Linked DNA regions of Homo sapiens: region 1 is linked to region 2. Evidence: fine-mapped expression QTL. A gene starts in region 2. The other region holds a variant in brackets. All regions are shown on one strand. Distances are from middle to middle. Region 1 overlaps FGFR2 (fibroblast growth factor receptor 2). Region 2 holds the start of FGFR2 (fibroblast growth factor receptor 2).

The links.
Region 1: its variant is fine-mapped to the expression of FGFR2 in blood mononuclear cells (TOPMed, PIP above 0.99).

What each region holds. Positions count from the first base shown.
Region 1 is chr10:121,519,103-121,521,839 of GRCh38, reverse strand. It overlaps FGFR2 (fibroblast growth factor receptor 2), which reads left to right. Exons shown (of 18, transcript NM_000141.5): 7 at 1,671-1,861. Among named protein-coding and RNA genes, the nearest start is that of FGFR2, 78 kb to the left of the region's middle. The variant G/A (reference allele first, on the strand shown) is at 1,559.
Region 2 is chr10:121,596,887-121,599,903 of GRCh38, reverse strand. FGFR2 (fibroblast growth factor receptor 2) reads left to right here and starts at 1,460. Exons shown (of 18, transcript NM_000141.5): 1 at 1,460-1,942. RefSeq lists enhancers at 2,254-2,989, 2,990-3,017.

The DNA of each region.
Region 1 (2,737 bases), 78 kb after region 2:
TCCTGATTGCAGTTCTTTTAGATAAATAGAGAAGTGGGATTGCAGGATCTTAGGGTAGTTCTGTTTTTAATTTTTTGAGGAACCTCCATATTGTTTTCCATGGTGGCTGCATCATTTTATATTCCCACCAACAGTGCGCAGGGGTTCCAGTGTCTCCACATCCTTGCCGACACTTGTCTTTTTTTTTTTTTCTTCCCATCCTGACAGGTGTCATGTGATAGCTCCTTGTGGTTTTGATTTGGAACGCGCCCGATCTCGTCTGATTTGCATTTCTCTAATGATTAGTGACATTGAGAAACTTTTCATACACCTAGTGGCCATTTGTGTCTTGGAGAAATGCATAGTTAAGTCCTTAGCCCATTTTTCCATGGGTATTACTTAACACTTGAGGAGTCTCATGTGTGGTTGCTAGCACACCTTGGCTTGATTGTCTCCACAAAAGTTTTGCAGAGACCGCCTCTTAGCTGGAGAGAAGCCTTTCCAGGCATAAGATGAGAGGGTGTATTCTTTGTTGAGAACGTGTTCTCGAAGGAGAGAGAGGCAAGACAAGTGAAGCTAGGAAGTAATTTTGGGATACCATCTCTGCCCTTTTATAGGGCAGTCTAAAACATAGCCAGGAGTTGGAAACCAGCATCTCCTTATGTTTCATTCAGTGCCATATTGGAATAAGCTAAGAAACATCTACTTGTGCATTTAGTAACTGGCATAGAGTAACACCTGATATTCATCAAAGAGCTAAATGGGTGAATAAAGAATGAATGAATGGAGTGAATTCCACAATAAAGAGGTGAATCCCATTATTAATCAAATCTGTTCATAACTTTGGGCTTTAGGCTTTAGTTTAATTTTTAAAACAAAGGTTGGAAGTCTTCTCAGAGCATCTTAGAAATGTACTGGAGCCGAGCGTGGTGGCTCACGTCTGTAATCCCAGCAATTTGGGAGGCCAAGGCAGGTGGATCGCTTGAGCATAGGAGTTTGAGACCAGCCCAGGCAACATGATGAAATCCTCTTTCTATAAAACATTTGAAAGTCAGCTGGGCGTGGTGGCGGTTGCCTGTAGTCCCAGCTACTCAGGAGGCTGAGGTTGGAGAATCACCTGAGCCTGGGAGGCTGAGGCTGCAGTGAGCCGTGATCATGCCACTGCACTCCAGCCTGGGCAATGAAGTGAGACCCCGTCTGAGAAAAGAAAAAAAAATGTATTGGGAGACATGTGCCTATTGAAACCATTTTTGGTATTCAGAGTGTCTTTAAAGTTAGTCTTGTCATTTGCCTGTGATGTTAAGCTTGTGGTTGAGGTGAGTTTTTGAGATTATCTCAAATAGGATAAGTGAAGAAGCTTCCCTCCCCTACCATTTGTCACTTAGATTGTCAGAGTAGAATTTCTTCCCGTATTCATCAGGTGGCAGTGGACAGCCAATAACCTGGGATGTAATAAGTTCTTTTCTCAATTTTCTAAGTAAGTGTTCTTTTTACAAGGGTCGCGCTCCGGCAGTCTCCTTTGAAGTCGTTTCTGTTATTCATGGGGCCACAGTGTTATTTCAAAGGTGTCAGCCAGCAG[G/A]CTTGAGGCTTTTCTGGCATGAGGTCACTGACAGCCCTCTGGACAACACAGCTTATTTATTGGTCTCTCATTCTCCCATCCCCACTCCTCCTTTCTTCCCTCTCTCCACCAGAGCGATCGCCTCACCGGCCCATCCTCCAAGCCGGACTGCCGGCAAATGCCTCCACAGTGGTCGGAGGAGACGTAGAGTTTGTCTGCAAGGTTTACAGTGATGCCCAGCCCCACATCCAGTGGATCAAGCACGTGGAAAAGAACGGCAGTAAATACGGGCCCGACGGGCTGCCCTACCTCAAGGTTCTCAAGGTGAGGACTTTCTGAATCTAAAGGTACCCACAACTGGGGTCTCCTTCATGGGTTTGGCCACAGGTTCTTTGATTTCCTGTTGGAGTTGAGAGAGGATGATTCTCTTTTTTGACTAGCCAGCAGAGAGTGTTCTAAGGAATTAACAGATCATTACACTTGCTAGTAGAATTTCAGAAGGGAACTATGGAGTAGGGGAAGAACTACTAAACTTGGGGAAGAACTACTAAACTTGGAGAGAGAATAGTTCAGCTATTTATCAGCCCTGAGATCGCAGACATTTAGGCTTAGCTGCGCCTCTATAAAAGTAGAGATCGTGATACTCTGTCCCCCATAGGGCGGTTGTGCAGAATAAATGGGATGGAGTGGATGGAAAGAGCTTTGTAGGCTCAAGGCATTGTGCCAGTGTTGATTGTTACTCTGATGTTGTTTTCTATTAATAGGACATTAGGATCCAATTTTAGTAGCCACGTTTTAGAAACAATTTGGATTTTTTTTTTAACAAAAACAAAACAAAACAAAACCCTGACCTTTGAAATCCATTCAGAGGTGATTTAGACAATAAACTCTAGGTCATATTTCTGCACCAGTGAAATGTTGAACAAGGAAAATATCTTTCCCTCCTTATTTCTTATTTGCAAGCCCCCATTTTCATAGCATCTGCCTCTTTTTTAGATCTAGGTTTGCTCTTCAGGAGACTGAGGACAGGGGCAGCTAAGTCTGTACAGCTGGCTCTTAACTCCTTGCCTACCACGCCTCCCATGTCTAGTTGCTCATGGAGAATGAATGTCCTTAAGAAGAACATTCTTCCAGTAGAACCATAGGTGACCCAGCTAAGAACTTTCAGCCAATGAAGTGTTCTCACCAGCTAATAATTCC
Region 2 (3,017 bases):
AACATACCCTCCCACCAAGCATATAGAGGGATAATTTTGCTTAAGAACCAGTTTTTATTTTGTTGCTATCAAATTTCCAAAATACAATGTTATAGCCTTTTGCCTGAGGCAGTTAAATGGATTTCTTACTTGTGTGGCTTTTAAATAACTTGCATAAACGTTTTCTGTGCTATATTTGTGAATAAAAATGATTTTCTAATCATGTAGCACCTTGAAAAATATTTTTGTAAATGTTATGAAGGGTGCAATGTTAGTGACACAGGTGCAAATATGTTTCTAAATCCAGGAAAAGTCTGTTTTCCAAGTCAGGTTTGTTCTCAATGCTTCATCTATCTTCAGGCCTCAAAAGGATTCTAAAGCATTTCTGGGTTTAGTGACCTTTTCTAAAGAAAAATAATTAAGGTTTTAATCTATATGGTCTTGAACTTAAGCACGGCTGCTCAGGAGCTGGATGAATAAGGAGGGAGAAAAAGCATATTTAAAATAAATTATTCCGAAGACACGGCTTAGTGAAAAGGTAAATGGACATAGGAACTTTAACCAGTTACAGCTTGGTGTGCAGTTGAAGAATCAGATTTTGCATTTATGATTTTTAATCTAAGATTCAGAGGGAGGAATTACTTTGTTCAAGGTCTATTTATGGTAGAGTTGTCTTTAGACTCCTTTGAATTTCTTTTTATTAATCCAAACATATATTATTAAACACTTTTTTTTTTTGATGCAATTTTGGCTTTTTCTGAGAGAGCCACATTCAAAGTCAGGCTGTCCTAGTAGCCAGCTGTGTGGTCCTAGGCAAATTACTTAACCTCTCTGATCCTGTTTCCTTATCAGAAACTGGGAATAGTACTCTGCAGGGTGGTTGGGCAGATGAAATAGAATCACCTATGTAGTGTGACCCTCCCATAGTAGGGCCTCCATTAATATTCAGTTTTTTCCTCTCATTTCTATTGTTTAGAAGGACAGAAACATGCAATGTCCTGCGAACATTTCCAAGTGGCTTCCTCTCCTCCAAAAGCTTCAGCTGCCTGGCAACCCTCCCCGCAGTATCAAGCAGGCGCATTTTAAAGTCTCTTTAGCGGGAGGGCAGGGTTAGAGCCTTCGGTCATTTGTTTTCTAACTTGACATAAAACAACGTAACGCAGTCGCTCAGCGAGCCGTTGGCCAGCCTCGCTCGCCCGGGGAGGAGGGAGGAGGTGGCGCGGGGCGCGGGACCAGGCCTTATTCGGAGGCTGTCGCTGCATCCCTACGGCCGCATCGCGGCCGAGCCCTCGCCTCCCGGGCCGGTGTCTCCGGCTGCTCGGAGGCGTCGGGAGCCGCGCGGGACTCGGGGCGGCCCGGGCGCGCGGCGCTGATTGGCAGAGAGGGCGCCGCCGTCCAGGAAACGGCTCGGGTTTCAGTGGGGGCGTGACCCGCCGCGAGGAGGCGGGGGCGGCGGCGGCGGCGCGGGCGGCGGCTGGAGGAGAGCGCGGTGGAGAGCCGAGCGGGCGGGCGGCGGGTGCGGAGCGGGCGAGGGAGCGCGCGCGGCCGCCACAAAGCTCGGGCGCCGCGGGGCTGCATGCGGCGTACCTGGCCCGGCGCGGCGACTGCTCTCCGGGCTGGCGGGGGCCGGCCGCGAGCCCCGGGGGCCCCGAGGCCGCAGCTTGCCTGCGCGCTCTGAGCCTTCGCAACTCGCGAGCAAAGTTTGGTGGAGGCAACGCCAAGCCTGAGTCCTTTCTTCCTCTCGTTCCCCAAATCCGAGGGCAGCCCGCGGGCGTCATGCCCGCGCTCCTCCGCAGCCTGGGGTACGCGTGAAGCCCGGGAGGCTTGGCGCCGGCGAAGACCCAAGGACCACTCTTCTGCGTTTGGAGTTGCTCCCCGCAACCCCGGGCTCGTCGCTTTCTCCATCCCGACCCACGCGGGGCGCGGGGACAACACAGGTCGCGGAGGAGCGTTGCCATTCAAGGTAATCGCCGCGCAAGACGCCTCGGGGAGCTTCGCCAGCCGGGGACGTGGGCGCCACGGGAGCCCGGGACGCCGGGTGCACCGTCCTCCGGGCGGGGGGCGCGGAAGGACTAGCATTGTGGAGGACGCTCCGTGTCCTCCCTCTGTGGCTGCATAGGTGATGGGGGAGGTGGGTGCGTGCTGACGGCCGGCGTTCTGGAAGTTCTGCCTCTGCTACCCCCATCCAGATGCTGACATCTGCTTCTGGCGTTGACGCCCCCCTCCCTGTCAAACCCTGGCGGGCGCATTCCCGCTGACTGGGCGCGTTTCTCCGACCCCAGAGCAGACGGGCGGAAGGTTCGCCTGCCCGTGGCACAGCCCCGCAGGCCGGTTCCCGGGGTCATCTCCGAGGTGCCCCATCCGTGTGTCCTGGGAACTTCCGTACCATCCAGGCCCTGCGGAGACCCCTTTTTCGGGAGGGGGCCGCTGGGGTGGGGCCGGTGACATCCCGTAGGGGTGGCGATGGCCAGGGGTGGCACTGCTGGGGAGGCGACGGCTCCGGTGCCTGGGCGCCCCTCGCCCGCAGCCGCCGTCGGCGCTGGAGGGAGCGCAGTGCGCCTGGGGCTAGGGGGCGAACTGGACCGACTTTTTCTAGTTCGCCTGCCTGCTCTGCCGCAGCGGCTGGGAGATGTCGAAAGCGCAGGCGAGTTCTAACTTGCGCGCTCATTTTTTTCGGCCACGGGGCCGCGCTGGGGAAAAAAGCCGAGGGCCCTGCGTGGCGCTGGCTCCGACCCTCGCGGACCACGGACCTGGCGCAGGAGGCCCGCTCGGGGACCACCAGCCTCCGTCGCTCTCCTCGCACCCCGCTCCCTTGCAGACCGTTCTCCAGACCCTCCTTCCTTTCTCCCAATTCAATAAAACCTACCCTTAAAGGCAAACCTGCTTTCAAACTCAGGGCACCCATTATGTGTTTGGTGTGAAACGCTATCAACATTTAAAACTCCATTGTCTCCCTGGTCCCAAATCCCTGTAAATCTTCCACCGGGCTCGACTCATTTTCATCTGAAAAGCCTGTTTAGTTTGAATAGAAAAGCAAT